Linked DNA regions of Homo sapiens: all the other regions are linked to region 1. Evidence: fine-mapped expression QTL. A gene starts in region 1. Each other region holds a variant in brackets. All regions are shown on one strand. Distances are from middle to middle. Region 1 holds the start of SCNN1D (sodium channel epithelial 1 subunit delta). Region 2 holds the start of AGRN (agrin). Region 3 holds the start of ACAP3 (ArfGAP with coiled-coil, ankyrin repeat and PH domains 3).

The links.
Region 2: its variant is fine-mapped to the expression of SCNN1D in esophagus mucosa (GTEx, PIP above 0.99).
Region 3: its variant is fine-mapped to the expression of SCNN1D in cerebellar hemisphere (GTEx, PIP 0.99).

What each region holds. Positions count from the first base shown.
Region 1 is chr1:1,273,397-1,283,493 of GRCh38, reverse strand. SCNN1D (sodium channel epithelial 1 subunit delta) reads right to left here and starts at 3,058. Exons shown (of 18, transcript NM_001130413.4): 1 at 2,828-3,058; 2 at 2,197-2,268; 3 at 1,884-2,083; 4 at 1,179-1,252. The coding sequence starts at 2,832. LINC01786 (long intergenic non-protein coding RNA 1786) reads right to left here and starts at 9,492. Exons shown (of 3, transcript NR_185846.1): 1 at 9,013-9,492; 2 at 8,195-8,691; 3 at 2,887-4,426. It overlaps UBE2J2 (ubiquitin conjugating enzyme E2 J2), which reads left to right and starts at 9,640. Exons shown (of 7, transcript NM_058167.3): 1 at 9,640-9,828. RefSeq lists silencers at 134-334, 9,006-9,055, 9,216-9,795 and enhancers at 8,156-8,794, 9,985-10,097.
Region 2 is chr1:1,016,938-1,027,232 of GRCh38, reverse strand. It overlaps AGRN (agrin), which reads right to left and starts at 7,113. Exons shown (of 36, transcript NM_198576.4): 1 at 6,860-7,113; 2 at 4,771-5,032. The coding sequence starts at 7,060. RefSeq lists enhancers at 1,505-2,480, 2,481-3,457, 4,642-5,841 and a silencer at 7,350-7,799. The variant G/A (reference allele first, on the strand shown) is at 4,973.
Region 3 is chr1:1,300,671-1,310,965 of GRCh38, reverse strand. ACAP3 (ArfGAP with coiled-coil, ankyrin repeat and PH domains 3) reads left to right here and starts at 3,036. Exons shown (of 24, transcript NM_030649.3): 1 at 3,036-3,197; 2 at 6,823-6,880; 3 at 7,685-7,804; 4 at 7,991-8,044; 5 at 8,920-8,978; 6 at 10,274-10,295. The coding sequence starts at 3,151. It overlaps PUSL1 (pseudouridine synthase like 1), which reads right to left and starts at 2,369. Exons shown (of 8, transcript NM_153339.3): 1 at 2,246-2,369; 2 at 1,994-2,051; 3 at 1,693-1,880; 4 at 1,363-1,512; 5 at 1,115-1,285; 6 at 278-332; 7 at 1-57. The coding sequence starts at 2,322. SNORD167 (small nucleolar RNA, C/D box 167) reads left to right here and starts at 6,154; the gene lies at 6,154-6,237. RefSeq lists silencers at 1,728-1,857, 1,868-2,007, 2,038-2,107, 2,328-3,007, 3,048-3,217 and 2 more and enhancers at 6,192-6,792, 6,793-7,392, 7,393-7,993, 7,994-8,593, 8,594-9,195. The variant A/G (reference allele first, on the strand shown) is at 4,600.

The DNA of each region.
Region 1 (10,097 bases):
CTCCCAACCTCAGGTGATCCGCCCGCCTTAGCCTCCCGAAGTGCTAGGATTACAGGCGTGAGCCACCGTGCCCGGCCCAGAAGCCCCATCTTTCTCTGCCAGCTCCTGGAACTCAGATCCGGGGCCGTGGTGGGCTCCCAGCACTCCCTCCCTTCCCTGGCTGACAGACACTGGGTGGGGACCTCAGCTCCCAGATCCAGTGTCTCTCGGGACCAGCCGCCCAGCCATTGGGACAGGTGCTAATGTGGGAACACCAAGGGTCTGGGTGTGGAGAAGGCACCTGCTCCCCCGAGTAGGCACAGGGGCTCGCCCTCCCTGCTGGACACTATAGCTGCCACCAACCACACCACACACTAAGATGACGCGCCACACACTAAGACTTTCAGTCCACACCCACACCACACACACCAAGATGCTGGCACACATGGAAGTGACTCACGACCACCAGGCGCGGTGGCTCACGCCTGTAATCTCAGCACTTTGGGAGGCCGAGGCGGGCGGATCACAAGGTCAGGAGTTTGAGACCATCCTGCCTAACACGGTGAAACCCCGTCTCTACTAAAAATACAAAAAATTAGGTGGGCGCGGTGGCAGGCACCTGTAGTCCCAGCTACTGGGGAGGCTGAGGCAGGAGAATGGTGTGAACCCAGGAGGCGGAGCTTGCAGTGAGCCGAGATCGTGCCACTGCACTCCAGCCTGGGCGACAGAGCAAGACTCCGTCTCAAAAAAAAAAAAAAGAAAGTGATTCACAACACACTAAGACCCCACACATGCTAAGACCACACACGTATGCTAATACCTCACACACGCTACGACCTCACACACACTAAGACCACACACGCTAAGACCTCACACATGCTAAGACCACATGCTACTGTCAGGGTCCAAATCACAGTCTCCCAGGCTGGCGTCTTCAGCCCCAGTGCGGTTGTGTGGAAGGCAGGTGTCCCTGTCCCCCAGGACCACCCCATCCCTGTCTACTGTGGGACCCTAGATATCCAGGTGGCCTCACTGTCCCAAATGACCAGACCCGAGCCGGGCCCAGGTTGGAAGGGTAGGCTCTGTGTTCCTGACATCCTGCCCCAAGTGGTGCTGGGTCCCTGGGCTTGGCTGGGGGAGCCCAGCCCCACAGGGTCCAGCAGCAGAGCCATGGCTCTGAGGAGGGTGAGGTCACCTGCCTGCCGGCTCTGGAAGGAAGCAGCTGCCACCGGTGACGTCCTGGAGAGGAAAGCCATGCTGGAGTCACCCAGGCCTGTGTGAATCACAGCTTCGTCACTGGCTGTGTGGCCTTCCCGAGTTACTCAACCTCTCTGAGCTGATTTCCTTGAGTGCCAGATGGGGCTGGGGTGCCTCTCCAAGCTCGCGGCAGGGGGCTTGCTGATGTCACAGAGACCCCACAGGTCAGCGGCAGGGCCCCCGGACACAGCACAGGCCTGGGGCTTCTCCCCCACCACATCTGGGCAGCTTTGTGCGTGGGCCGCACCTGCCGAGGAGACAGGGCACACATGGCCCGGGCGGCTACTTGGCAGGCGGGGACAAGGTCCTAGGTGCTTGCCAGAGATTGTGGCTGGAAGCAGCCTGTGCCTCCCTGTGTCCCCGGGAGTGGCCTGGCAGACAGCCCAGCCTTGGTGCAGGGTGCAGAGAGAGAAAGAGCCCAGGTCCGGCCAGTGGGGCCCGGTCCAGCCAAAGGGCAGCTTGCAGGAGCAAGGCCCCCGGCTTCCTGTAGGAGGGGGAGCCCTGGCCGGGGGCAGAGCACCCCTTCCATGACCCGTATGCCCTGCAGGGCCTCAGTCAGAGCACATCTCGGCTGGATCACGCAGCTCCCGGCTCCACCCCCCTCCCCTCCTCCCGGGCAAGGCCTCTAAGGGCTGAGGTTCAGTCACCTGTCCCACACCCCTGTATCGGGCCAGAGAGTAGGCAGAGGGGGTAGCCACAGAGCACATGTCCAGCACTGGTGAATCCACATGGTCCTCCCCCTCTTCTGGGCCATCCCCTCGCTGGCCCGGTGCAGGGGGTGGGGTGGGGCGAACCCAGCTCCCGGCATGTGGGGGTCCTGTGGTCACTGCACCATGACCAGGTGAGCCTGAATGAGAGAAGGGACGGGCAGGCATCCCTGGCTCCCTTTGGGCCCATGCCTCTGCTCTCTCCCAGGAAAGACGGCCAGGCCCCATTGACCGAGCATGGCTGTGAGCTCACCTCCTTGGGCCGCTGAGGTGGCCGGGCCACAGGTAACGAGGGAGCGGTGTTGTCTTCTGTGACAGCACTGCCCTGGAGATGGCAGGCGCCTGGCATCTGTGGGACCCCAGCCAGGACCTCCTATCCCAGAGCCCCGTTTCCTCCCCTGGGGTGAGCGTCCCCCACTCAGGGTCACTCTGAGTCAGCCCTGGGACGGTTCTGGTGCAATAGACAGGCAGCCCAAGGTCGGGATTCCCGTGGGCATGGGCAGGCCAGGGGTGGCCTGGGGTCCCTCTGGGGTCCTGCACCCAGGCAGGTGAACAGCCTCCCAGGCAGAGCCCCCTCGGCCCCGGGCATCAACTGCACTGTCCAGTGGAGCCTCCGCAGAACAGGCACTAAGGTGGCACCAAGGTGCCCCCGGCTGCTGGCCTGGGTGGGTGCTGAGGGTGGGAGTGTGGAGCTTGGGGTCTGGCCGGTGTCCCCTGCTGGGAGGAGTAAGGTGCGTGTGGGCTGCCTTCTAGGTTCCCTCATAAACCAAAAATAAAATTATAAGCCCTGAACTGTCTGGATGGACCCCTGGTCTTAGCCATGGGCATTCCAAAGTTAACCTGAAAAACTAGCTCAGCTGTGATGGGAAGGGAGTCGGACGCACCTCATGCCTCCTCCCTGCTGGAATTCAGGCACAGCATCAGCATCACCTCAGGCCTTGAGTCTGATGAGAAGCATTTATAGTTGATTCTCTCTGAGGCTTGTGACCTGGTGGCTTCATCTGCGATAAGACCTTCATCTGCACAACGCCATACTGTAACCAGACATTCCCTTCTACTGATAACAACTCTTTTTTTTTTTTATTTATTGAGATGGAGTCTCGCTGTCGCCCAGGCTGGAGGGCAGTGGCGCGATCTCGGCTCACTGCAGGCTCCGCCCCCCGGGTTCACGCCATTCTCCTGCCTCAGCCTCCTGAGTACCTGGGACTACAGGCGCCCGCCACCACGTCTGGCTAATTTTCTGTATTTTTAGTAGAGACGGGGTTTCACCGTGTTAGCCAGGATGGTCTCGATCTCCTGACCTCGTGATCCGCCCACCTCGGCCTCCCAAAGTGCTGGGATTACAGGCATAAGCCACTGCGCCCAGCCTAATTTTTGTATATTTTTTTAGTAGAGATGGGGTTTCACCATATTGGCCAGGCTGGTCTTGATCTCTTGACCTGGTGATCCGCCTGCCTCGGCCTCCCAAAGTGCTGAGATTACGGGTGTGAACCACTGCGCCCGGCCACCTTTTTCTTAAGACAAGGAGAACGACTCCCTTTTGGGTACCCCATTTGGTTTCTAGCTCGGACGTGCGTTCCTAAGGGTCTTCTCTGTTGCTTTTTCTCCCAAAATTAAGCCCAACTGGCTTGTGCGTGCATTTGCATGAGGAACTGAATTGTTCTTTGCATAGATAAATGAGAGACTGAGTTTTCTCAGCTCCAGAAAGAAAGGCATTTTGCTCCTCCCAGCTGAAAGGCGCCCCTGGGTGACTGTGAGCCAAGTGGGAGTATCTCGTGGGCTGATCCCCCACGACGTGCAGCAGCCCCACAGGGAACCCCCCAACACAATTAGTTTAAAAAGGTTTGTCTGCTGGGTGCAGTGGCTCACGCCTGTAATCCCAGCACTTTGGGAGGCCGAGGCGGGTGGATCACGAGGTCAGGTGATCGAGACCATCCTGGCTAACACGGTGAAACCTCGTCTCTGCTAAAAACACAAAAAATTAGCCGGGCATTGTGGCGGGAGCCTGTAGTCCCAGCTACTTGGGAGGCTGAGGCGGGAGAATGGCGTGAACCCGGGAGGCAGAGCTTGCAGTGAGCCGAGATCGTGCCACTGCACTCCAGCCTGGGCGACAGAGCGAGACTCCGTCTCAAAAAAAAAAAAAAAAAAAAGGTTTGTCCAGGAAATGCACATAGGAGCTGGTCACTCTGTGTTTTGAGTCCTCTCGGAGGTGTTGGACTTCTAGAGAGAGAAACAGAGACACGTAAGAGGGCGAAGATGCCTCAGTGGTGACACACTGGGGAGTCCCGCCCACGACCCGTCCACGACCGGCACACTCAACCTGCTCCACGGAACCCCATTCCACAGCTCGGTTCCTCTGCGCCCCACCTGCTCCACGGAACCCCAGTTCCTCCATACTCAACCTGCTCCACGGAACCCCAGGCCACAGCTCAGTTCCTCCGCGCCCCACCTGCTCCATGGAACCCCAGGCCACAGCTCGGTTCCTTTCAAGAAAAAAAAAAGTGGGAAATAAATAATGTAAGCCTCAGCAAAGACAAGAGGGCGACCTCCTTCCAGGCACCCCGCTGGTTTCAGGCGCCTCTACCTGCAAGTGTTGGTATAAAACTGAACATGTCGCGGGCATGCTGGGTTTCCTAGTGCCCCAGCTGGTTCCATATTATGGTCTTTTGGGGCACATTTTAAACTGATGGGCAAATTCCATCCAGGAAAAATTCAGAGCCCAAAGGTCAGCCTGCAACTACAGAACCATAGAGTTCCTGGCCAGGCGCAGTGGCTCACGCCTGTAATCCCAGCACTTTTGGAGGCCAAGGCGGGCGGATCACCTGAGGTCAGGAGTTCGAGACCAGCCTGACCGACAGAGTGAAACCCCATCACTACTAAAAATACAAAAATGAGCCGAGCGTGGTGGCATGCACCTGTAATCCCAGCTACTTGGGAGGCTTAGGCAGGAGAATAGCTTGAATCTAGAAGGCGGAGGTTGCAGTGAGCTGAGATCGTGCCATTGCACCCCAGCCAGGGCTGCAAGAACAAAACTCTGTTTCAAAAAAAAAAAAAAAAAAGAACTATAGAGTTCCTAAGTTCTCTATCTCTCTGTTTCCTTTGCTGCCTGCCTTAAAGCTGCTGTTACACTTTTTGTTTTTTTTAGGTAGAGTCTCACTGTGTTGCCCAGGCTAGAGTGCAGGGGTGCGATCTCGGCGCACTGCAAACTCTGCCTCCTGGGTTCAAACGATTCTCCTGCCTCAGCCTTCCAAGTAGCCAGGATTACAGGTGTGCGCCACCACGCCTGGCTAGTTTTTGTAAATTTAGTAGAGACGTGGTTTCACCATGTTGGCCAGGCTGGTCTTGAACTCCTGGCCTGAGGCAATCCACTCACCTTGGCCTCCCAAAGTGCTGGGATTACAGTTGTGAGCCACCGTGCCTGACCAGCTGTTACTTTTCTACTGAGATGACATCCACAGTTTGCATCTAGATGTTTCTTTCTGTTATTGTTTTTCTAACTAGTGACTTTGTGTTGATATGTCATGGTTAGAGGTGTAAAGCAAAAGCTGTAGGGTTTTTGGATGAGTGTATATGTGTGTTTAGATGTGTTTATGTGTACGTGCGTGGATTCTGATACATGTTTTGTGGCCACAAGGTATCAAAGTGGCTTAAGGAGTATGCATACATTTAGTACATAATAACAAATTTCATGTGACTTAAGTAAAAAATTTTTTTTTTTTTGAGACGGAGTCTCGCTCTGTCCCCCAGGCTGGAGTGCGGTGGTGCGATCTGGGCTCACTGCAAGCTCTGCCTTCTGGGTTCAGGCCATTCTCCTGCCTCAGCCTCCCGAGTAGCTGGGACTACAGGCGCCCGCTACCACGCCCGGCTAATTTTTTGTATATTTTAGTAGAGACGGGGTTTCACCATGTTAGCCAGGACGGTCTCCATCTCCTGACCTCGTGATGTACCTGCCTCGGCCTCCCAAAGTGCTGGGATTACAGGCGTGAGCCACCGTGCCCGGCCAAAAGTATTGGTAAAGTAATATAAGGAGTGTCTTAAAAACTGTCAGCATACATTTTTGTTTGCATTTATTGATTTATAAGGGGTCAAAACTTGGCATAAGCATTGTAAAACTCTAAACCCAGCTGAAGGCCAGGCATGGGGACTCACACCTGTAATCCCAGAACTTTGGGAGGCCGAGGCAGGTAGATCACCTGAGATCAGGAATTGGAGACCAGCCTGGCCAACATGGCAAAACCCCGTCTCTACTGAAAAATACAAAAATTAGCCAGGTGTGGTAGCACATGCCTGTAATCCCAGCTACTTGGGAAGCTGAGGCCGGAGAATCACTTGGACCTGGGAGGGGGAGGTTGCAGTGAGCCGAGATTGCACCATCGCACTCCAGCCTGGGCGACAGAGTGAGACTCCATCTAAAAAAAAAAAAATTATAGGAAAACGTTCTTTCTACAAAAATTCTTATTATAAGGTAAATAATTTTGTCTAATTCAAAGCTTATTTAAAGTTTATGTATAAAATGAGTTAAAAAGAACAAGGAAATAAGAGAGACCAAGGAAAGTTATAGATATAAAGAGGTCTTTTTGTTAAGTAAGGTTAAAAAAAATAATTTTATATGAGAAAGAATCTTGTATGGTAAATTTTTGTCCTTAAATAAATGACTGGTTGTTTAAAAAAAGGGATGTTCAGCACAAACTAGAAAGTCCACATGTCGTGAACGGTCTGTGTAAGCTGCAATACCTTTGGTAAAAAAGGAATTTATAAAAATGTTACATGATAGATCGGGTGTGGTGGCTCATGCCTGCAATCCCAACACTTTGGGAGGCCAAGGAGGGCGGATCACTTGAGGTCAGGAGTTCAAGACCAGCCTGGCCAACATGGTGAAACCCTGTCTCTACAAAAATATAAAAATTAGCCAGGCATGGTGGTGCATGCCTGTAGTTCCAGCTGCTCAGGAGGCTGGGGCAGGAGACTCAATGGAACCTGGGAGGCGGAGGTTGCAGTGAGCCGAGATCATGCCACTGTACTCCAGCCTGGGCGACAGAGTGAGACTCCAACTTTAAAAAAAAAAATTGTTTTAAGAGGTAATGAATGCTGGTCCATGTCCATTCCTATCTGGCCTACAAAATTTAATGGGCTGTAAATCTTTTAACTGTAAGTCCCTGGGTCATAGGGAGTCAAACTGAGGGACAGGATTGACTGAGGGTGGGCAGCCACACTCGCCCAGCAACGCTGAGACACAATAAAGATTTGGTGGACATGGATGTTGCCTCTGGCAAATCTTGGCCAGAAGGGGGTGAATGTAAACCAAAAATTAAATTCTAAGGCCCCCCCAGCCGTCCAAATGGACCCTTCCTCTCAGCCAAGGGCGTTCCAGTGTTAACCTGGGAACTTGTTCAGGCCATGGCGGGAAGGGGTCGTGGGTCATGCCTCCTCCCTTTTGAAATTCAGGAAAAGCTGACTAGCATTAACATCAACACAGGCCTTAAGTCTGATAGGAAACATTAACAATCTATTCTCTCTGAAGCCGGCAACCCGAGGCTTCAGCTGCGTGGAAAACCACAACCCCTTACTGCAACCCAGACATTCCTTTCTATTGATAATAACTCTTTCAACCACTGTCGGTCAGGATCATTTTGAATCTGCCTATAACATAGAGGTCTCCCCACACCACCCCAATTTATCCTGCTCTTTCAGATTGAACCCGTGTAAATAAATCATGTCTCCCTAAAATGTATAAAAGCGAGCTGTGCCACATGCACCTTGGGCACCTCCCGAGATGTCATGGGTGTGTCCTTAACCTTGGCAAAACAAACTTTCTAAAGGGACTGAGACCTTCCTCAGTTTGCACCCTCCAGGCTGGGTTCTCTGTCCCTCAAGCATCCCCTGGCCAGACAATCCCTGCTGTTCAGAGGCAGCCAAGGCTTTCTGGTCCAACCCTGGGGGCTGGAGGAGGTGGGGGCAGGAGGTGGTAACTGGGTTGGGGGATGTTTTCTTGGTTGCCAAAGCAGAGGGTGCCCCCCGCTGCTCAAGATGCTGAGGGTGGTCCCTGTTGTCCTATTCCTGAAGCTGCCAGAGGAAGTCCCTCCGGAGGGCTGGCCCACAGCAGAAGGGCTGCTCCTGCCCTCAGAGGGCAATCTCAGGGTTGAGAAGGTTACAGCCACCATCTGCCACCAACCTAGCTGCTTGTGCCGATCCCACTGGCCAAGGCCATCGGCTCTATGGCTAGAGGCCTGGGCAGCCTGTGTCCTGCTTACCAGAAGGCCACAGATGCGGGTGGGTGGGGTGGTGGGGTCTTGGCAAGACGTGCTGGCCACACCTGTCCGGGGCACCTTCTCCCTGGGGTGTGACTCAGCCATGCTCCTGAGCAGGGGCCTCTGAGTTGAGCCTCGCTGCAGTCTTCCCAGCTGCAGGGCCCCCACAGGTGTGCTGTCATCGCACACTACTGAGGGACAGACAAGGCAGAGCGGGCCTCCATCTGCCGCGGGCCACAGCCGTGAGTGTGCATGCGAGTGGATGTGCTGGTGCCTGTATCTGCGGCCGGTGTGGCTTCCCTCACATAACTTTCCATGCTGTGAAAACAGTTTGGCCTGCCCTGCATGGGAACGGCAGAGGCCTGAGAGGAGGCAGAGGAAGGAGGCTGGATGCTGAGATGTTCTCCGAAGGTGGAGCCGGTGACGGCAGTAATGGAGGCAGGCTGGATTCCCACGGGCTGAGGCTGCGTGGACACTCCTCCTGGCTTCTGCCCCACGGCCTGCAGCAACGTCTCAGACCCACCAAGGTGTCCCAGAGGGCCAGAGTCAGGGCTGAGCATGGACACAGCCTGCCCTCTGCCCGTAGCCACAGCGGGACTGACCCTCAATATTCAGCCACCTTGCTGACCTGTGGTTGTTCCTGAGAGGCAGTCAGGGTTGGGGCAAAGGAGAGGGCCACAGGCAGCCAGGTGGCGAGGTCCACCTCCTGATCCCCCACCAGGGGACCACCCTCAGCTCCCCGCTGTCCTCAGCGGCCTCTCAGGGAGGCGGTGGGCTGCGCGCCTGCCCCCAGCGTCCCACCCCAGCGCCCCGCCACCTACCGCTCTCTCCCAATGTGTCTGGGGTCAGAGAGAGGTGGAGAGGACGCAGCGCCCCGCGCTTTCTGCAGTCTGTCCAAGGGGAGGTCAGGGGCATCCCGGGGCTGGGCAGGCACCTGCAGGGGAGGGTGCTGCGGCGCGGACGTGGGTTGCAAAGAGATGCCACGCGTGTCACTCTCGGGTCCCTGAACGAGAGAGCTCTGAGCTCCCTGGAGCCCAACCCTCCACTGAGCCTCCAGGGGCCCGGGACGCTCCATGCCCGGGCCGCGCCGCGCCTCCCCTAAGGGCCGGGTGGGGCGTGGGAGCGGAGGACAAGGCGGGAGCCGGGAGGCGGGAGGGTCGGGGTTCTTTCTCCACCGGGGTCGCCCTCAGCCGGGCCTGCCGCCCTGGGCCGTGGCACATGGGGAGGGAAGCGCGCGGCTTCGGGGTCTGGGGCTCTCGCGCCCACTAACGGTGCCCGGAGCCGCCCGCCAGTGCGCAAGCGCCGCCCCGCCCCCCGCCCCATCCCCCACCCCGGGGTCGACGGCGACAGAGAGTCGTGGGCGCGGTCCGCCAGTCTGCCTAGAGCGGCCAGCCCTCCCCCTCCCTCCTCACCGCCCCGGACCGCGCACCGGAAGCAGAAGCTAGGCTGGTTCCGCCCCGCGAGCGGCCATCTTGGAGGCTGAGGCGGCGGCGGCGGCGCTGCGGCGGGTTCGGTGGGCCCAATCCCGGGGCGGTGCGGCTGTTTCGGGCGCGGGCCCCGCTTTTCCGCACCCTGCTCCGGCCTCGACTACGGCGAGCCTGAGCGCGGCGGCGGCCCACGCGCAGCGACAGGGAGAGGTGAGCGCGCTCGCAGGCCTGCGCCGGGTCCTCGGGCCCGCTCGTCCCCCCTGCCGGAGCCGGCCACAGCGGCGGCCCGGGGCTGCTGGGGACCCTGCGCGACGCTTCTCCGTTCGCGCCCGCCGCCCGCGGGGCCCCGGCCCGAGCCTGCCTGCGCGGAACCCGAGGTCGGTTACGGCGGGCTCCCGGAGCTCCGGGTCAGGGTCATGTCGGGGACTTGACCACTCGGCCGGGTTTCCCGTCAGCTGGGACACTTGCAGCTGCCCCAG
Region 2 (10,295 bases), 260 kb after region 1:
CACACACGCAGGCCACACAGCTGGAAACAGCCGGCTGCCTGTAGGACACAGCACGCCCCTTCTCCCACGCCTCTGCTCCGTGGGGGGACTGCAGGAGGAGGGGGCTGGGAGGGGCCGTCTCCCTTTCCCAGGTCCTGCTGTGAGCTGCCCCTGGCAGGGGGCCTTCCTCAGAGGAAGTTCCCAGGATCTGTGCTGGGGGGAGAGGCCCCTTCGGGGGGGCTTCCCTCAGTGCTGCAGGCTCCGCTAGAGACCTGCCTCATTCCCTAGATCCCAGCCACAATCTTGCCACAGCCTGAGGGGCGCACAGGACTGCTCTGAGCCCCAGTGCAGCTCCCAGCAGCTCACCCAGCAGGCAGGAGGTGCAGGGGTACAGAGCCTCCTCCTCCAGCGGGCGACTGTCCATGGGGTGATATCTCAGCCCTGCACTTCCTTTTTCTCATCTCTGAGGGGCAGGCACCTCCTGGGACCCCGGGGTTCCATCCTGAGGTGGGCAGGCCACCACGGTGTTTCCGTCTGCAGCCCCAGCCCCGCTGGGCTTCGGGGGCCCTGGGGAGCCCAGTCCAAGTGGGGAGGGGGTGCCAGAACCAGGACTGCAGGGAGGGGGTCCGTTCCTGCCCCACCCAGGCCGCTGGTGGGGCTGTGGACCTGGGTCCCACAGGTGGAAGCAAAGCCCTGGGCGTGGGGCGTCTGCTTCTGCAGTTGTTTTCCACCCTCCTGCAGTGATGGGGGCAGAGTCAGCCCTTCAGGAAGGAAGCTGCATGGGCCTGGCTGGAATGACCTCTGGCCGGACCTGTGGCCCCGAGGCACGGGCACCCCCTTCCCTGGAGCAGCCCCATCCCGCCTTCTGCAGGCTGTGGGGCTAATGATTCCCTCTCCTGATCTTGCAGGGACAGGAACCTGTCCTCACCCTAACCTCCTTCTCCCCTACCTTGGCCTGGAGGCTGCAGCAGGTGCCATCCCCACCACCACCCACAGAGGCCCCACCAGAGCGGCCAGTGTGGACAAGCGGGAGCGAGCCCAGTTCCAAAACAACCTTCCCTCTCTAGTCTGCAGGAACAATGGAGCCAGGGCTGTTCTCTGGGTGGGGAGTGAGGGAGTGGGGTGGGGTCTGGAAAAAGCCAAGAGTTCCTTCCACCAGCTCAGCCCGGCCCTCTCAAAGAGGTCATCTCCACAGAACTGACCAACCCGATTCCCCTACCCCTCCCACCACCTCACTCCCTTTGGTTTCAGCCAGCAAAGCCCCCCCCCAGGCCAAGGCAGGGGCAAGCCCAGGAGAAGTCAAAGACGGGACAAGTCCATTCACGCAGGCGGGAAGCACCGAGCCCCGACTTCCCACCAGGAGCCCCGGGGTTGGGATGGACAGAGGTGGGCCCTTCACCCGGCAGACCCCCCTCCCAGCTCCAGGAGAAACAGAGGTGGGGCCCCAACTTCCTACCAGGAGCCCCTGGGTGGGGAGACACAGAGGTGAGTGGGGAGGGACAGAGGTAGGCCCTCCGCCCTCCCACCCGGCAGACCCCCTCCCAGCTGCAGGAGGGAGATTGGGGCAGCAGCCTCGAGCCCAGACCTGCCTGGGGGAGGGCCAGAGAGGGGCTCATGGGGTGGGGGTGGGGGAACCAGGGGGCAGGATGAGAACCTGGAGTCAGGAGGGGGCAGGAGAGGGTGGCAGGAATGCGGAGGAGTTGGGGGCAGGAGCTGAGCCCTGGGCAGGAGAGGGGGCTGGCCCCAGCCCTATGGGAGGTCCTCCTGCATCCCAGAAACCTCCCCCAACTCCTAGACTGCCCCACACTGAGGGGAGCCTGGTCTGGGGCTGTCGGGCCCCTCAACCCCAGCACCGATGCTGTCCCCGGTGCCGTGGGACTCTGGGCTTCCCCTAGGACTGCCGTCCTGAGGCCTAGGCAGCTGGCCAGGCAGGGAGGAAGGGAGGGTGCACACGCCGGAATACAGGCGGGCCCGGGACTAGGCCGCCGGGACCCCGGGCTTCAGAGCTGGGCAGGGCCGGGCTGGGAAGGCGCCAGACTCACTCTGACCCTGGCCCCCTGCCCTGTCCCTGTGCCAGGCCCCGGCAGGGGCAGACAACACTCCCTTTCTCTGCTCCTGGCTCCTAGCAGGGAGGGATGGGCCCCGGGCGGCCTGGCCGGCCCTCAGCCAGGAGTCCCTCCTGGGGGCTTCAGGGAGGCTCTAGGACCAGCCTTTGTGAGGTGGGCTGGGAGGGCATGGGCAGTGCCCAGACAGGACAGGGTGGCGAGGGCCGGAGGAGTCGCCCGCTCAGCCGCCAGCCCTGGGCAGCTGGCACTGCGGAGGCCAGGCCACTTCCCTGACAAAGCAGGGGCGGGGGTCTCCTTCCGGAGGGAGCAGCGGGCCTCCCCCGCCCAAAGGTGGCGCAGAGGGAGGGACACATACCTGTCTTAGTTATGCCAGGAATGTGGCTCCCTAGGCAGAGAAGGGGGGAGGAGCCTTTCTGAGGGTTGTTGACTGGGGGAGGGGCCTTGGCTGGGCAGGGCCAGGAAGATCTGGCAGGGCCAGGTGAGAAACTGAGGAAAGGAAGTCCTCAGTAGAGCTGAGTCCAGGTGTGGCCCAGCAGCAGGTGCACCTCAGGCGGTGTCCGGGCAGGGGTGGTGAGGGGCGTGGCCCTCCCCGACCTGGGGAGCTCGGAGGGGCCTTTGTCTCCAGGATGGGGTTCCCATACAAGGTGGGACCCTGTGGTCTCAGGGGTAGCTTCTGAAGACTAGGGGCTGCCCAGACGCCATCCTGTGCCCTGGGAGGTGGGGTCGGAGTCAGATGGGGAGAGGTCAGCTAGGCTCAAGCTCCCTCCATCCATCCCCCTCACTAGGGTGAGGCCTTGGCTACCAGAGGGCCCAGGGTGGGGTTCAATGTCCTTATCTCCTACAGAGCAGGAGATGGACCCACCTCCCACACCACCCAGTGTGAGGGGAGGGGTGGGCACACAGAATTGTCCCTTCTCCAGCCAGACTGGCTCCAGAGACCTTGTCCCTCAGGGCTCACCCCAGGCTTCTGGGAGGCATTTACCCTGTCCCGGCAGCCAGGGACCCCAGCCACCCGAGATATCCCTGGTCTACTTCCACAGCAGAGCTCCACATGTCCCACCGGAAGCTCCTGGGCTCCCCCACTCCTCATGCTGTTTCCCTCCTGAGGCTCCCCTTGGCCCCTGGCTCACCTGCAAGGCCCCTCCCATGACAGTCCTCCCTGGCTAACCCTCCCCTGGCCAGCCCCACCCCAGGGGGTCCGGTGGCCACAGCCCCTCCCGGGTGCTCCCCAAGCTGCATACTGGCTGTGGGTCCCAGGCTCCCCACCTGGAGCTCGTCCCTGAGTGCGACTGCCCACAGCTGGGCTAAGCCACACCCACCTGGCAGGGGCTCCCCACGGACCCTCCTCCCAGCGCTCTGCTCCGCCTGGGCACTCGCTCCAGAGCCAGTGCCTGGCACCCGTAGAGCGGCTTCGGTAAGATGCAGAGCCTCGTTCAGCCGGGGTGACTCTCCTGCCATGTGCCCTCTGACCCTAGAGCAAGTCCTCAGCTACTAAGTCACGGACTCTCGGGCTGGACCCACCTGGCTGTGGGGTTAGTGACCCCCTCTCCTGATCTTGCAGGGACAGGAACCTCTCCTCGCCCTAACCCCCTTCTCCAGCCCCTCCTCAGCTCCTGACAGCCTATCCTGAGTCCACGATGCCCCCATCTTTTCCCCAGACCATGAGTGCCCAGAAGAGGACCAAGGTTATCATGTCCTCCCAGTGGGGGACCCAGGGGACCCTCCTCTGTGCTGCACTGAGGCCCTGGACCCTGAAGGCAGCTTGGGGACCACTGACCACAGGCTGGGGAAAAGGCCGCAGCGTTCCTTATTTTGGGTGCTGCCCCTCCCCCTGCATAGCCCCCAGGCATGCACAGAGAAGGCAAGAGCAGTGGACAGTCCAGGACCCCACAAGGACCCCTCAAGAGCCAGGCTAGTGTCAGGGCAGCAAAGTTTCCTGCCGGCCAACGGAGCAGATCGGAGAGACGGGAAGTCAGGACCCTTACCGTTGCCTTGAGGAGGAAGCACTCTCCAGACCCCCCCACCGACACATCCCTTCCCAGGCAGCCATGAGGGAGCAGACAGGATGTGGGGGCGACAGGGACCTCCTATATTTTCCCTGCCACATTCCCCAGCCAACGATCTCAGTCCCCAACTGGGACTTGTCCTGCGGGGGCTGCCATGGGATTTCTGCCCCCACCAGGCTGGGGTCAGGGAGGGCCACTCCTCGGCCCTTCGGCAGAGCCATGGGAACAGCAAGCAAGACCTCACGATGGCAAATGCCACACCCTCCACATCCGCAGAAGCCCTCGCCGCACAGCCTCGCCCTCCCGCCCGATCTCCACGGCGAGGAGTGCTCGACACGCGGGCCCGTCTAGACGGAGGTCTGGGCTAACACAGGGGCTTGAACAGCTGGGGACATTCACCTGTCCAGCTTCTCCCTAGAAGGGGCCTCCAGAAGGAAGTATGGAGAGCTGGGAGGAGGGGAGGAGGCAGGAGGCCATCTGTTTGCAGGGCTGGGACTTGCCTTGGGCCCCAGGGCCAAAGATGTCTAATGTGAGGGCTTGGAGATGCAGCTGGGGAGCCAGGGACGGAGAAGCAGAGAATGAGGTTGGACCACAAGACACCGTGTGCTGCAGCCTCCGGCACAGCACGAAAGGACCCCGCACAGCGACCCCTGCAACCTGTCCCCCTTGGCCACTGCCCTGACCCCCACAGGCCCCCACACGAGCCCCCCACCACGCACCTTCCACACAGAACTCCACCTCCTCCAGGTTCCGCAGGGTGATCCGCATGAGGCTGGAGTTGAGCATCAGCTCGTTCTTGTGGGCTGGCCACAGGTATGGGGGTGCAGGGTTCACAAAGAAGATCCTGGTGTCCCCAGTGGACACCTGGTTGTCACAGATGAGGGGGTCTCCAAAGCCGCTGATCACCACCTTGTTGCCGCC[G/A]TCCAGCAGGCTCTCCCGGGCCACCAGGTCTTTGCCCTTCAAGTACCGCCAGACCCGAACCTGGGGTGGACATGGCGGTAGGTGTCATTAGTCCTCTCCTGGGGAAGGGGCTAGACTGGGGGCTTTAGGTGTTTAGGGCAAATGTCCACAGTAGACTCAAGCCCTGGGCAGAGATGTGGGGAGACCTCTGAGTCAGCCCGCTGGGCGGAAGCTGGGGGAAGCCCACACTGGCCACCACAGCCCATGCGGGAACGCTCAGAGATGCGTCACCTGTGAACACATCCCCTCCCCCAGGTCTAACCAACTTCAGCCACCCCAGCTCCAATAACGTCCCTATCAGCTAAGGCCGAATTTGGGAAGGGGGCCCACCTGGCTTGGGGTGCCTGCCTTCCACACTTCTCCCCACCTGCCCAGTGCTCAGGGCCCACCTCCCAGCAAGCTTGGGCAGTGGAGGAGGGGGATGGGGCGTTGGGGTAAGGGGCCAGCTTGGCCCTGTGGCTGGGCTGAGACGCCCCTTCCTCGGGCTTCTACAGTCTGTGCACTCAGGGCAGCCTGTGAACCACGAAATCAAGTTTGGGCAGTGCAGGGTGCCCCACCCTCCACCTTCTCAGCTCCTGGGGCCCTGAGGGCAGCTGCTCTGACGGTGGCCTGTGGTAAAGGCTACAGCCGACCTGGCGGCCCTCACGGGGACAGGGACCCACGCACTCACGCACTCCCCTGAGAACAAAGCCGGGAGAAGCAGCCCCTTCCTCAGATCTGGGGGGCTGGGGCTGCCGGATGGGGGGAGAGACAATGGTTGGCCTGTCCACTGCGCAGCCCCTGCTGGGAGCCTCAGGACTGCGGCATCCGCAGGGACCCCCTCCAGTTGCGCAGGCAGAGCCTCTTCCACGCCCCCCAACAGTAGGCTCCAGGAGGCAGATGACCCAGGCAGGGGGAGGGCCTGGTGGCTTTCATCGCCTTCCCCCACCCCAGCCACACCCAGGAGCAGCGGGGAGGAAGTCGGGAAAATCCTGCAGGGGCCTGGCAAAGTGCCCTGGCCGCTGTGGAGGAGACTGGGCCGGCGGGGGAGCCCAGCTGTAGCCCGCACCGGCCAGTCTGAAAGAAGCTGCCACCTTCTCCACCTCCGTGGAGGGAAATGAGTGGATTTCTGGTCCCAGGAGATGGTTTTGGGGGTACACGGGCGCCGGCTCTGGGTCCCCCGAGCCCCTACTAGGAGAAGATGGTGGGGGTCCCAGCGTACCTACCCCGGGGGCTCCCAGAAGCACCTGAAGGAGAAACCAGGGAAACTTCCCCTCCCCGGGGTGGGGAGCCCCGGTTCCCGCAGGAGCGCGATGGGGCACCGGCCCTGCCCCCAAGCACACGAGGCCCGGTGACGGCCCCGCCCACCTCTCTGCTCCTGCACGCCCCCCCCCCGCACCACTGCGGCACCCCCCACCTGGCTCCCGGGGTTGGGAGCTCAGGCTGTGCGCCCCTTTTTCTCTCCTGACCAACCCCTCTCGCCCCGGGAAAGGCCTCTGGGGAGGGGAACAAGCGGATCCCAGGCCCAGCCCCCGCTCCCCGCCCGGGCAAAGGCCCCCCCTCCCCAGGCCCCTCTCCTTCTCGGCCGGTAGGGAGGGCGCGCGGCAGCCGCAGTCCGTGGGCGAGGTGCACTTGTCTCCGCGAGGAGGGAGGCGGCGGCGGGCGGAGGACGGCGGCGGCGCAGCAACTTTCCCCGGCGCCCGCGAGTTTCCCGGGACCCGGCGACCCCCCCTCCCGGGGCTTGGCGGTCGCCAAGGGAGCCGGAGCGGGGGCTGCGGAGCGACCGGGGCTGGTTCCCACGGCCTGGGGCGGGGGTCCCGGCGGGGCGGCAGGCGTCGCGAGGGGAGGCCGGGGTCCGGGTGGGCGCACCTTGCAGGAGTACGTGTGCTGCACCGGGTCCACGTTGAGGATCTCCTCCACCGTCCCGGTGAGCACCACGTTCGCCTCCTCCTCGCGCCGCTCCAGCGCGCGCTCCGGGCATGTCCCGCCGGCTCCGGGCAGGACGCACGCGGCCACCACAAGGAGCGGCAGCAGCGGCCGCAGCGGGCCCGGGTGGGACCGGCCGGCCATGGCGCAGGCGAGAGGCGGCGGAGGAGCGCGCGGGCCGCGCCGGGGACGGGACTGGACAGGACGGGACGCAGCTCCGGAGGCGGCGGAGCGCGGGCGGGCGGGCGGGGGGGGGCGGGGCCAGGGCGGCGCCCCTCCCCCTCTCTCCTCCCCGCCCCCCTACCCCCTCCCCGCGCCCTCCTCCTCCCCCTCCTCCTTCCTTCCCCCTCCCGCCCCCTCCCTCCTCCCTCCCCCGGCCCGCCCGGAGGCCGGCGACCCGCGCCGCCGCGAACAAAGCCCCGGGACGCAGCGCCCGGCGCGGCCGTGGGGCGGGAAAGGGGCGGCCCGGGAGGGGGCGGGGAGAGGAGAGTGGGGGGCGGGTCTGGATCCCGCAGGCGCCCCTCCCCCGCCGCGGCCCCCCGGAAGTGCGGCTGCACCCGAGTTAATGCCTAATCTGGAGGAGACGTGACGGGACTGCCGAGGGGCTCCGGGCGGCGCGGAGCCGGGCGGCAGGGCTCGAAGGCCGCCGGGAGGGGCCCCAGACCCGGCCCCGATCCCGCTCCGCAGGCCGCGCCCCTCCCCCGCGGGGCCGGACACCGAGGCTCGGCCGGGCCGGACCCCCCGGGAGCTGCGGCGCGGAGGCGGGTCCCGGTGCCGGGGCGGGCGCTGATTGGCCAGCACGGGGCGCGGCCCCGCCCCTCCCGGCCCCGCCCCCCCAGGCCCCGCCGCGGGGAGGTTCGCGCCCCCTTCCGTCCCGCGGCTGCAAGCGCGGGTCCCGCCACGCCCCTTCCCAGCTCTGGGCCGGGCGCCTCTGCAGCTTGGCCTGGCTGGGTGCAGGGGGAAACTGAGGGCTGGAGGACCCAAGTGGGAGCCTGGCCTAGCTGAAGATTGAAAGGAGGGAGCGGAGGCCCCCTTTGTCCCTTCAGAACTGTGTCTAGGCTGGGCGTGGTGACTCACGCCTGTCATCCCAGCACTCTGGGAGGCGGAGGCAGCAAGATCTCTTGACACCGGGTGTTCGAGACTAGCCTGGGCAAAATAGCAAGACCCCATCTCTCAAAAAAATTAAAAATTAGCTGGATGGGCCGGGCGCAGTGGCTCACGCCTGTAATCCCAGCACTTTGGGAGGCTGAGGCAGGTGGATCACGGGAGGTCAGGAGTTCGAGACCAGCCTGGCCAACATGGTGAAACCCCGTCTCTACTAAAAATACAAAAATTGGCCGGTGTGGTGGCAGGCGCCTGTAGTCCTAGCTACTTGGGAGGCTGAGGCAGGAGAATCGCTTGAACCCAGGAGGCGGAGGTTGCAGTGAGCTGAGATGGTGCTGAGAGGTGACAGCGTGCTGGCAGTCCTCACAGCCCTCTCTCGGTCTTCACGCCTCCTCTGCCTGGGCTCCCACTTTGGTGGCACTTGAGGAGCCCTTCAGCCCACCGCTGCACTGTGGGAGCCCCTTTCTGGGCTGGCCAAGGCGGGAGCCGGCTCCCTCAGCTTGCAGGGAGGTGTGGAGGGAGAGGCATGAGCGGGAACCGGGGCTGCGCGCGGCTCTTGCGGGCCAGCTGGAGTTCCGAGTGGGCGTGGGCTTGGTGGGCCCCGCACTTGGAGCAGCCGGCCGGCCCTGCCGGCCCGGAGCAATGAGGGGCTTAGCACCCGGGCCAGCGGCTGCGGAGGGTGTAGTGGGTCCCCCAGCAGTGCCAGCCCACTGGCGCTGCACTCGATTACTCGCCAGGCCTTAGCTGCCTTCCGGCGGGGCAGAGCTGGGGACCTGCAGCCCACCATGCCTGAGCCTCCCACCCCCTCCGTGGGCTCCTGTGCGGCCCAAGCCTCCCCGATGAGCGCTGCCCCCTGCTCCACCGTGCCTAGTCCCATGACCACCCAAGGGCTGAGGAGTGCGGGTGCACAGCGCAGGACTGGCAGGCAGCTCCACTTGCAGCCCCAGTGCGGGATCCACTGGGTGAAGCCAGCTGGGCTCCTGAGTGGTGGAGACGTGGAGAACCTTTATGTCTAGCTCAGGGATTGTAAATACACCAATCAGCACCCTGTGTCTAGCTCAGAGTCTGTGAATGCACCAATAGACAGACACTCTGTATCTAGCTACTCTGGTGGGGCCTTGGAGAACCTTTATGTCTAGCTCAGGGATTGTAAATACACCAATCGGCACTCTGTATCTAGCTCAAGGTTTGTAAATACACCAATCAGCACCCTGTGTCTAGCTCAGGGTTTGTGAATGCGCCAGTGGACACTCTGTATCTAGCTACTCTGGTGAGACCTTGGAGAACATTTATGTCTAGCTCAGGGATTGTAAATACACCAATCGGCACTCTGTATCTAGCTCAAGGTTTGTAAATACACCAATCAGCGCCCTGTGTCTAGCTCAGGGTTTGTGAATGTGCCAGTGGACTCTGTATCTAGCTACTCTGGTGGGGCCTTGGAGAACCTTTGTGTGGATACTCTGTATCTAACTAATCTGGTGGGGACGTGGAGAACCTTTGTGTCTAGCTCAGGGATTGTAAATGCACCAATCAGCGCCCTGTCAAAACAGACCACTAGGCTCTACCCATCAGCAGGATGTGGGTGGGGCCAGATAAGAGAATAAAAGCAGGCTGCCGGTGCTAGCAGTGGCAACCCGGTCAGGTCCCCTTCCACACAGTGGAGGCTTTGTTCTTTCGCTCTTTGCAATAAATCTTGCTACTGCTCACTTTTTGGGTTCACACTGCTTTTATGAGCTGTAACACTCACCGCCAAGGTCTGCAGCTTCACTCCTGAAACCAGCGAGACCACGAGCCCACCGGGAGGAACAAAAAATCCAGACGCGCTGCCTTAAGAGCTGTAACACTCGCCGCCAAGGTCTGCAGCTTCACTCCTGAGCCAGCGAGACCACGAACCCACCAGAAGGAAGAAACTCCGAACATATCCGAACATCAGAAGGAACGAACTGAAGACGCGCCGACTTAAGAGCTGTAACACTCACCGCGAGGGTCCGTGGCTTCATTCTTGAAGTCAGTGAGACCAAGAACCCACCAATTCTGGACACAGTGCAACTGCACTCCAGCCTGGGTGACAGAGCGAGACTGTTTCAAAAAAAAAAAATTAGTCGACGGGCCGGGCGTGGTGGCTCAGGCCTGTAATCCCAGCACTTTGGGAGGCCGAGGTGGGCGGATCACTTGAGGTCAGTAGTTCGAGACCAGCCTGGCCAACATGGTGAAACTCTGTCTCTACTATAAATACAGACAGGGCACGGTAACTCACGCTTGTGATCCCAGCACT
Region 3 (10,295 bases), 27 kb before region 1:
GGCAGGTGCCAAAGCCCCCAGCCCCACGGCCACCAGCACAGCCGTCATCCTCCGTACCTGTGACCCAGAGCCACCTGTGACCCAGAGCCGCCCGTGACCCACCAGCACAGCCGTCATCCTCCGTACCTGTGACCCAGAGCCGCCCGTGACCCACCAGCACAGCCGTCATCCTCCGTACCTGTGACCCAGAGCCGCCCACGACCCAGAGCCAAGACTGCACAGGGGCCTGCCCACCCTCAGCCCCACCCCCTGGGGACGGCCCCAGAACAGAGCCTACCTGTCTATACAGGAAAGACTGGCTCTCAAACTCCAGGTTCCAGAACCGCAGCTTCCTGGAAAAATACGTACCTGTAGGTGTCTGTGGGGCAGTGTTTGCCATCCTCAGCCTACTATGTGGCCTTGGACGGGAGAGTGACAGGGTGGGCCTAAAGACGAGCCTGGTTCCCACTAGCTTGGCCACCAGGGGCCCTGGCTGATCTCCTGCCCCCAGTGAGGCCCATTGGAGGGGCTTAAAACCAGAGAAACAATGCTTGGGCAAGGAGGCAGCAGGACCCTGGAGGCTGGGCAGGTAGCCTGGCCATCCCAGAGGGGCTTGCCCTGGGCCCTCACCTAGGGTCCTGGTGCAGGGTCTGGGAACGTGGCTGGTGCGGGTGCCAGAGACCCCCAGTCCTGTACCTGCTGCTCTGCCACAGAAGTCTGGGGCTGGCAGAAGTTCTTCCCCCCTTCAGGGCTCACCCCAATAGGGGAGGTTCTGGTCAGAAGCTGCCACCTGGTGGGTGGCCCTCGGGACAGTGCTGGGGGCAGCAGAAACCACCCCACCAGAACCACTGGCACCAGTGAGACCTTTCCAGTAGCTGCCAACATTCTTCCATCAGGCATGGCAGGGGTTTTTCAGAGACAAGCAGCCTTCCCTGTTCTCCGCTCCCCAGCCTGGGGGGAGGGCACAGCTGGAGGCTGGGGGGCGTCCGGGCGAATCCCCTCCAGCTGTCCAGGTCCTGAGGACTCCCGGCTGCCTGCCTCCCGCCTCACCTTGCCTTAAAACTGGGGGAGGTGCTGGAGCTAAAATCAGCACGTGACTTGAGGGCAGGGCCACAGCCCAGGGGCCCTTCCTCACCTGCTCTCCTCGGGGGTGACCAAGGGGCTGGCTTGGCCTGGGGAAACGGAGACCCGGCGCAGCGTTCGCACGGGGCTCGGCACCGGGCTGCCAGCGGACTGGAAGGCGCTGAAGTCGTGTGTGCCGAGGAGGTGCTGGGCGGCTTCCTGCATGGCGACCATATCCAGGCAGCTTCAGGGACCAGGGTGACCGTCAGGAGGGTGGGGCCGGCCTGCCCGCCCCCTCCCCGCTGTCAGGGCCACACTCACTCTGCCGGGAGAGTCCAGCATAGGTTGCGTTCAAACACCGGCAGCTCATCACGCCGGTGACAGCCAGTGGCCAGGCGGTACAGGTAGGTCCGGGACGTGGCTGCGTGACGAGCGTGGAAGTCGCTGGGCACTCGGAAGGCCCGCAGGACCCTATGGCGGCAGGTAAAGCTCACCGGAGGAACGACCCCGCCCGCCCGCGGTGTCACATTGGCTCTCCTTCCCCCTCGAGCTCCGACCAGACAAGGAAGTCTGTCCAGATCTCCAGCCTCCGCCCGCGACAGATGGAGTCGGGAAGGCACAGCCCCAGGGCTGCTTAGGTCGCGGGCTCACCTGATGGCCGGGTGCCGCAGGTGTGTGTTGAGGGCCTCGGCCAGGACCTCGGGCGGGAAGGGCGGCCGGCCTGAGCGGCGCTGGACGTCCAGGTGCGCCGCGTTGCTCAGGGCGTGGACCCCGGCGTCCGTGCGGCTGGAGATGGTGAACCTGACCGGCTCCACGGAATTCAGCCGCTCGGCGGCCTCCTGCAGGACCGAGCCGCGGGGCGGGCGGGTGAGCGAGGCCGGACCCCGGGGACGCGCGGGCGGGAGCCTCCCCCTTACCCCTCACCGGGCGTCCCGTGACCGGCTGAGCGCACCTCCAGGTAGTTCTGGACCCCGACGGCGCGCTGAGTGCCCCTGACGGCCGCGACCCCGCTGCGGGCAGAAGCGGGCGGAGGTTACCGGGGGCGCCCTGCCCTGGGGTCTCCGCCGCCGTCTGAGGCCAGGGCCGCTTCCTTCCCCGAACGTTTGGAACCCGCGTCCAGAGACATCCGCCTGCCCGCCCGCGCCCTCCTTCCCGCCTCCGCCCGGGCCCACGTGGCGCCCGCCGCTGCGCCTGGGAAACCTACTTAAAGTCGGTGCCCACGTACTGGAAGTACACAAGATAGCGCGCGCGCACGGAGCCTGAGGCCGGCGCCGAACTCATGGCGGAGCCCAGCCGGTGGCGTCAGAGGCGGCCTCCAGCGCAGGAATCCTGCGCGCGCGCGGACGCGGCCTGGTCACGCCCCCCCCCCCTCCCCCCCGGCCCCGGCCGCTCTTGCGCCTGCGCGGTGGCACCGCGCCACGGCGGCCAGAGTCGGGGAGCGGAGGCGGGGCCGGGCTTAGGGAGCGGCTGCAAAGTGCCGGCCCGCCGCCGAGCGCAGGCGCTCTACCTCTATCGCGGCGCCCCGGGAGGCGCGCACCAACCACGCGGTCACCCCGCGCTCTCGCGGGCGTGCATTCGTTCACTCGCTCATTCATTCGCCGCCGCCCACACTCCCCGAGCGCGCCCGTTCGCCGCGTTGCGGCCAAGTCCTCCCAGACGTGGTTTTTGCAAACGCCCTGAGTTGCGCAACGGCCGGGATGGTTGGAGCGGGCGGGCCCGCGCCCTCCCCGCGCCCTCCCCGCGCCCCACATTTCCACCGACTGTCCCCGGAGACGGCCGTGGCAGGCCCCGCCTCACTTCCGGACCGGGGTGGTCCCTGGACGCTGCGAGAGGCGTTTGGCGACGCTCCCCGGCGGTGACAGCGGGCGGCGCGCGCGGGCGGCGGACCTTGGCGACGCTCCCCGGCAGTGACAGCGGGCGGTGCGCGCGGGCGGCTGACTTTGGCGACGCTCCCCGGCGGTGACAGGCGGGGCGGGGCGCGGCGCGGCGGCCTCATTCCGGGGCGGGCGGGCGCCGAGGCGGCGCGGGCGGGACGAGCGGTCCGGGCCGGCGCGGCTGCCGCTCGGCGCCGCGGTCCTCGTGCCAGTGAGCGCCGCGGCCGCCGCAGCCATGACCGTGGAGTTCGAGGAGTGCGTCAAGGACTCCCCGCGCTTCAGGTGCGCCGCCCGGGGCCGCCGGGGTGGGCGCAGGCCGGGGGCGTCGCTGTCGCCTTTGTGCCCGGCGGCGGGGTGGGGAGGTCAGCGCCGGGCCGGGCCGCGGCCGCCGGGGAGGGGCTGGAGGACCGGCCTCGGACAAAGCGGCGGCCCCGCCCCGCCATGCCCCGGGGGTTGGAACAAAAGACGCTCCTGCCCTGTGCGGCCGCCCCGGGTGGAGGGCGTGCGCGTGGGCAGCCGTGGGCACCTCGGGACCGTCCGCCCCCGCTCTGTGTCTGCACCTCCACTGGGCTGAGCCCCTCCCGGGCCCTGCAGTCCAGCTCTGGCCAGGGTCGTCTGGGTCCGTGGGGGCGTCGGCCCCTGGTCTCTGACTTGATCCTGTGTCCAGAGCAGCGCGTGGGGAACAGGCAGCTGGAGCCGCGTTTAAGGCCTGGGGTAGGGTGCTTGGAAACGTGAAGTGGTTTGAATGACCCAGGGGCTTGGAGGGGTGGCGGCCGAGAAGAGCGGCGGGGAAGGTCAGGTAGGGGGTAGGGGTTGTGTGCACACCGAGTCTGCATGTTTTCCATCATTCGTGGCGTGCAGGCGTGTACACCTGCGTGAACTACATGTTCACAGACGTGTGCACAAGTGTGCATCGGCTTTGCTTGGTGGACATTTGGCAAACGACAATGGAGGCAAAGAAACCTCTCTGCATCCCCAAGTGCGCACCTGCGTGAGGCCCCCTCCTCTGCACGAGCTCGTGCGGGGTGCGCTCTTGTGAACTTTGCCCCTCTGCGTGCCTCCCTCCGGACACCAGGCCTTGCACAGGACGTGTGGATGAGCTGTGCCACGGGGCTGTGCTTGCTTCTGCATGTAGCCTGCCGATGAGTGCACGCAAGCGTGTGCACACACCACCTGTCTGTGTGGGTTCACGTACTGTGTTAGCCATGTCAGCAATAGACACATCACCTTGTACACGCGTGTTCCATCACTAGGTACACATGTTGATGCGTGTCTGTGCAGTGTCTCCTTGAACACACATGTATGTGTGGTACCAGTGTGTGCAGGCATGTTTGTGCATGAACATGTTTGCACATGTGTGCTTGATTGTGTATGTGTGGGTGTGCACGCGCGCGCTGGGTCTCTTGGGATCTGCTGGCAAGTCAGCATGTGTGTGGAGGCACGGGGAGCCTCTGTATCCCTGGAGCCCTCACCAGGAGGCTCAGGAGCCTTGGAGTGGGAGGCTCAGGGCCAGCCAGGAGAGTGGCCGCCAGCCCTGGGCAGAGGAACTGGGGCCATCCTCTGCTCTCCCATCTTCTGTTGCTGACCTGGGAAAAGGGGTTGAATAACTTGAGCACCCTAGGATCCTGCATTGAGGACCCGGGCTGTGGGGAGGTGTGGGCATGGCCTCCCTGCTGGGGGCTGG[A/G]CCCTGGCTGAAGCACCCACCTTCTCCCTGGCCCCTCCGTCAGAAGCCTAATGGACCTCCTCCTCCACGCAGACGGCCCTGTACTGCCCTCTTCCAGTCGTGTGGGGGTGCTGGAACCCACTCACCTCTGGGCCTTCTCTCTGGTAACCGGCTCTCATGGGAGCCTGTTACAGGAGCCAGTTATGGGGGCTGTGGGGCTGCAGTAGGTGCCGTAGAGTGACTGCCCTGGGAAAGTGCCTCACCCCTGTGGGGCATGGACTGGAGTGGGGAGATGAGAATGGCCTGGCCCAGTGGGTTTTGGGGTTAGGCTGTGATTTAACTGGGGTTCGAGGGGCTCCCTGAGGCTGTCCTGGGGGCAGGCCCTAAGGGCGTAACTTGAGTTTCCTGGCCTACCGCCAGGTTGGGGGGCCAGGCAGGGTGGGCGGGAAGATGTGGTCTGTAACGTGGAGCCTGGTCGCCCCAGCCCGGGAGAGGGGGACCCTGCCCGCACCCTCCTGGTCTGGGGAGGGCCTAGTGGCAGCCCAGGTGCAGTGGGCCGGAGGCCAGGGGAGCCCGTGTAGGGGAACCGCCTGGCCTCTGTTCAGTGTGCCCCTCCCCTGGGTGGGGCTTCAGGCGCTGAGTCATGGCTTTGGTTGGGGGGCAGCCTCACCCTCCTCCCCGTCCTCCAAGCTGCTGAGGAAATCCTGGGCTGAGCACAGCAGAGGAGGCCTAGGTCCCCAGGACTGAGGAAGGGAGAGCTGAGGGGCTCCCAGCAGTGGGAGCGGCTCTCGGGGCCTCTGCCAGGGCCCACCCTGTCCCCATGAGCACGTCCGTGAGCTCCTGGGTGCAGCCATCCCCCCTTGCTGGCTCTCCAGGGACACGGGCGCCCCAAACCCGAGGGCGGCAGCTCTGGGTGCAGCTGTCTCTGCATCCGGCCCTGCTCAGGGGTGGCTGCAACTCCTGGGGTGTGGCGCTCTCTGCTGCCTTCTCCTGGGAGGATGGTCCCTTCTCTGTTCTGGGATCCTCCAGCTGAGGTAGAGGTCAGGGTCCAGGGGCTGCAGGCTGGGCACTGGCGGTCAGCGGACACCACAGCGAGATTCCCTCCATCGCCCCCTGCTTCGGGATTCAGAGTCCTCTTAGCCCCTTGGGAACAAGAGAGGGCTGCTCAGAGAGGACCTAGTGTCCTTCTGGGGTGGCTGGGACCCTTCAAGGTCCCTGGCTGGGGCAGCCTGGTGCCTGCAGCTCCAGCTCCTAATTGAGGACACGCCCCATGTAAACCACAGGCCCCTCCCCCGAGGCCTGGGACACCGGTCAGGGTAGCAAGGTACGAGGGACTGTAGGCCCTGATGGCCTCTGCTCCTGGACCCCTGCCCTAGACCTGGAGTCCTGGCCCCAGCCCGGGCCCTGTGGTGCCCAATCCCCAGGAGGCCAGATGGCCCGGACAGCCAGTGAGCCGATTGTGTGGAGGGCTGCCGGGATCCTGGCCCTGTTTCCCTGTTGCCTGCTCCCGGAGGGGGTGGTCACGTGCCCGATCCATCTGCCTCCTGTCTTCCGGGGATTCTCCCGCCGAGGCTTCTCTGGTGATGTCATGCCTTAACTCTTCTCTCCCCAGGCAGCCCCACTGTCAGGCTGTCCTGGTGGGAGTGGGCTCTGAGGAGGATGGCCTACCCGTCTTTCCAGCGGACCATGCCGCTTGCAGCTGTGAGGTTGGGGGAGCCGGGGGCGTCTCTCCCCAGCTGGTCTGGGTCCTCCTGGTGCTGCCAGGACCGAGAGCAGCTGCCCTACTGCCCCCACCCTGTCCCACAGTGCATGGGTGCCAGACCTGGATGGGCTGCAGTAGTGCAGTGGGGTGAGGGGAGGTGCCGCAGGGTTGAGGGGCTCCAGATGGGTCCAGGGTTGACTCTGAACTCCTAGAGGAGAGGCGGGTGAGGCTGGCTCAGCCCTTGGTGGGCACTGTCCCTGAGGGACTCCCAGCGGCCGGCTGTCCTGGGAGAGGCTGGTCCAGCCTTCTTCCCCGAGGGCACAGCAGCGGCTGCCTCTGCCTGCCTGGGGTTGGGGGGGCGGGGGGAAGTGCACTGAACCTGGTCCCAGTCCTGCCCCCGTAGCAGGCAGGCGTCTGTCTCCCAGCCTGTTTCCTGAAAGCCCCTTCCCATGGTGGAGCCCCTCAGGGAGGTGCGGGGGGAGGTGAAGCCCCGAGGGGGCTGAGGCTGCAGGTGACCCCAGCCAGCCCCGTTCTTGCTTTAGGGCGACCATTGACGAGGTGGAGACGGACGTGGTGGAGATTGAGGCCAAACTGGACAAGGTGAAGGGCGGGCCTGGAGCGCCCTGTGCCCGGCCAAGCTTGGGATGGCCACATGGCCAGACTCGCCCTCCAGGCCTTACTAAGCCACTTACACCCCCCATATGTGGAGCATGCGTGTGGTGCTCCAGGTCCTGGTCCCTGTGTCTTAGCATGTGTGTTCCAGGGTGCACATGTCACATGCACACATGTGGCTGGCCCTGAGTCTCGTCCCATCTGGGAGGGGCTGGGCTGTGGTGAGTCCCCGACCCACGGTGGCTGCCCGTCCCCTCTGCTGGGCTGGTGACACGGGGACAGCTGCTGTGTGGGCTGAGCCTTGGTGTGGCTGGGGCTGGGGCTGAGAAAGGGGAGGGGGCAACAGGCCGTGGAGGGGGGAGCCGTGTCCATGAGCCCCACATGGGCTGAGAAAGAGGGGGCAACAGGCCGTGGAGAGGGGAGCCGTGTCCATGAGCCCCACATGGGCTGAGAAAGAGGAGGGGGCAACAGGCCGTGGAGCTGGGAGTGGGCAGCCTTATCCATGAGCCCCACATGGGCTGGTTCTGCTGGTCCTGCTGGCCCTGGGTCCCCTGCCTGGCTCCTGGTCCCTCCCAGCCGAGCCGTGGCGGCCCCACCCTCCCCTCCCAGACGGGCCTCCAAGCCCCAGGCAGGCCCAGGCGTGAGGAAGCTGCACCGGGGCACTGAGTCCTGAGTGCCAACGCCCTGAGTGGAACCTACCCTGGGAGCTCTTCCTGCCTCTGAGTGGCCGTGTGTGGTGGCGAGTGCAGGCGCCAGTGCCCACTGTGCTCACCACGCCCCGCTGGCCCACAGCTGGTGAAGCTGTGCAGTGGCATGGTGGAAGCCGGTAAGGCCTACGTCAGCACCAGCAGGCTTTTCGTGAGCGGCGTCCGCGACCTGTCCCAGCAGTGCCAGGGCGACACCGTCATCTCGGTGAGGGGCCGACTGACCTCTGACCTCAAGGTGGGGTTGGGGGAGAGGCCGAGGGAGGCAGCCCCTTGAGGGCGTCCAGGCCAGAAGCAGGCCGGTGTCTGCACCGCCCAGGGGCTCAGAGGGCGTGGCTGGGTGACCTGGGCCCGGATTTGCCATCTCAGCACGGGTTCCCATCTGCTCCTCCAGGAATGTCTGCAGAGGTTCGCTGACAGCCTACAGGAGGTGGTGAACTACCACATGGTGAGCGCGGCCTCCCTGCCACCTGTGGGCTGTGCCTGGCCTGGAACCGAGCTGCGCTGGCTCACCTGAAGGCCGGCGTCGGGTTGGGGGGGGCACGTTTCTGCTCCTCTAGTCGGGGGGGGGGGGAATCCCACATTTTCAAGTCAGTGTGGGGTTGGGGGACAGCCCTGGGGGCTCTGCCGTGTCCCAGGCAAGGGCCACACTAGACCCTGGGGGAGGGGTGGTTTATCCAGGGTTCCCCCAACTGGGCAGGGCTCTCGTCCCAGGCTGGCCTGGCTGCCATTTGGGTCTGGGTGGCCCCCGGGGGCCCTGGCACTGACGTGGATGGACACACAGGACAGGCACCCGTGAGATGTGGGGCTGCAGCCTGGGAACCTGAGCCGCAGACTGAACAGAGGAGGTCCCGAAGTAGACAAGGCAGGATGGCTCAGCCGTCCCTTTGCTCCTGGTTGTGCCCGGTCCTTCTCTACTTCGGGTTCCGATTCAGAGCCCAGGCTCCAGCTCCCCAGGCCCAGCCCCTGGGTGCTCCCGGCTCTGGCTGAGTGCTCCCTGCTGCAGGGATGGGCACCCCAGGGTGGCCGCCCAGGGCCAGGAGGCAGTGGGGCTCCGGCTCAGGCTGTGATGAGGCAGCCTTGGCCTCTGCACTCATCAAGGGCCAGGTGGGACAGAGGGGCAGGGGTGACAGCCATCGCCTCTGAGTGCCAACTCAGGCCTGGGGGCTGCTCCCCTGACCCCCTTGAGGCCAGCCCTGCAGGGTGGGACCCGCCCCTGCATCTGGGCCTGGGGGCAGTGCCCTCTGCTGGTGAGGATGGGGCCTTCCATCTGGGGCTCTTTCGGGACAGACCCCAAGGATCTCTGCCCGCCTCTGCCCCCAGATCCTGTTTGACCAGGCCCAGAGGTCCGTGCGGCAGCAGCTCCAGAGCTTTGTCAAAGAGTGAGTGGCCCCCAGGGCTGGGGGAAGAACACTGAGGCCACGCTCCCTCCCTTGGAGGGGAAGGGGGTCTGGGGCAGAGCAGAGGCACCTTGGGCCCAGGCCTCCAGGCTGTGCAGCGGCTCCACAAGGCAGAAGGCTCAGAGGCAGACAGCCGGGTGGAGTGCGGGGGGTTCCACACCCTGCATGTGTGGGTGGGGTGTCCAGCCCCCACAGCAGAGAGGTCCAGTCCACGTTGGGTTTGGGGGTCTGGAGTCTGGGGCATGGCTGGGGTCTGGGCTGGACAGATCTTGAGAGTGAGGTGGGGAGGGGCTGGGGAGGCCTGGAGCAGATGATCGGGGTCAGCAGGGGTGCGGGCAGGCCTGGGATAGGCTGGTGAGGAAGGAGGCTATGCCCAGGAGCAAAGAAAGGGCCTGGAGTGGAGGGGGGTGGGGCTGGGCATGGTGGCTCACACCTGTAATCCCAGCGTTTGGGAGGCCAAGGCCAGAGAATGCCAGGAGTTTGAGACCAGCCTGGGCAACGTAATGAGACCTCCATCTCTACAAAAAAAAAAAAAAAAAAAAATTAGATGGGCATGGTGGCACGTGCCTATGGTCCCAGCTATTCAGGAGGATGAGGTGGGAGGATCAGTTGAGCCCAGGAGGCGGAGGCAGCAGTGAGCCATGATTGTGCTACTGCACTCCAGCCTGGGTGACAGAGAGAGACTCCATCAAAAAAAAAAAAAAAAAAAAAGACACCCCCAAGAACCAAAAATAAGCCTTATATGGTGGCACGCACCTGTAGCCTCAGCTACTTGGGAGGCCGAGGTGGGAGAATTGCTTGAGCCTGGGAGGTAGAGGCTGCAGTGAGCCATAACTGTGCCACTGCACTCCAGCCTCCAGCCTGGGCAACAGAGACAGACCCTGTCTCAAACAAACAAAACCAGGCCAGGCGCAGTGGCTCACGCCTGTAATCCCAGCACGTTGGGAGACCGAGGTGGGTGAATCACCTGAGGTCGGGAGTTCAAGACCAGCCTGACCAACCTGGAGAAACCCCATCTCTACTAAAAATACAAAATTAGGCCTGGTGGCGCATGCCTGTAATCCCAGCTGCTAGGGAAGCTGAGGCAGGAGAATCACTTGAACTCGCGAGGCAGAGATTGCGGTGAGCCGAGACAGCACCATTGCACTCCAGCCTGGGTGACAAGAGCGAAACTCCGTCTCAAAAAACAAAAAACACACAAACAACGATGTGGGAGACTCCAGGATCCAGCAGGTGCCCTCCCTGATCTCTCACCCCACCTGGCACTTGGCCTCCAGGGATGTGCGGAAGTTCAAGGAG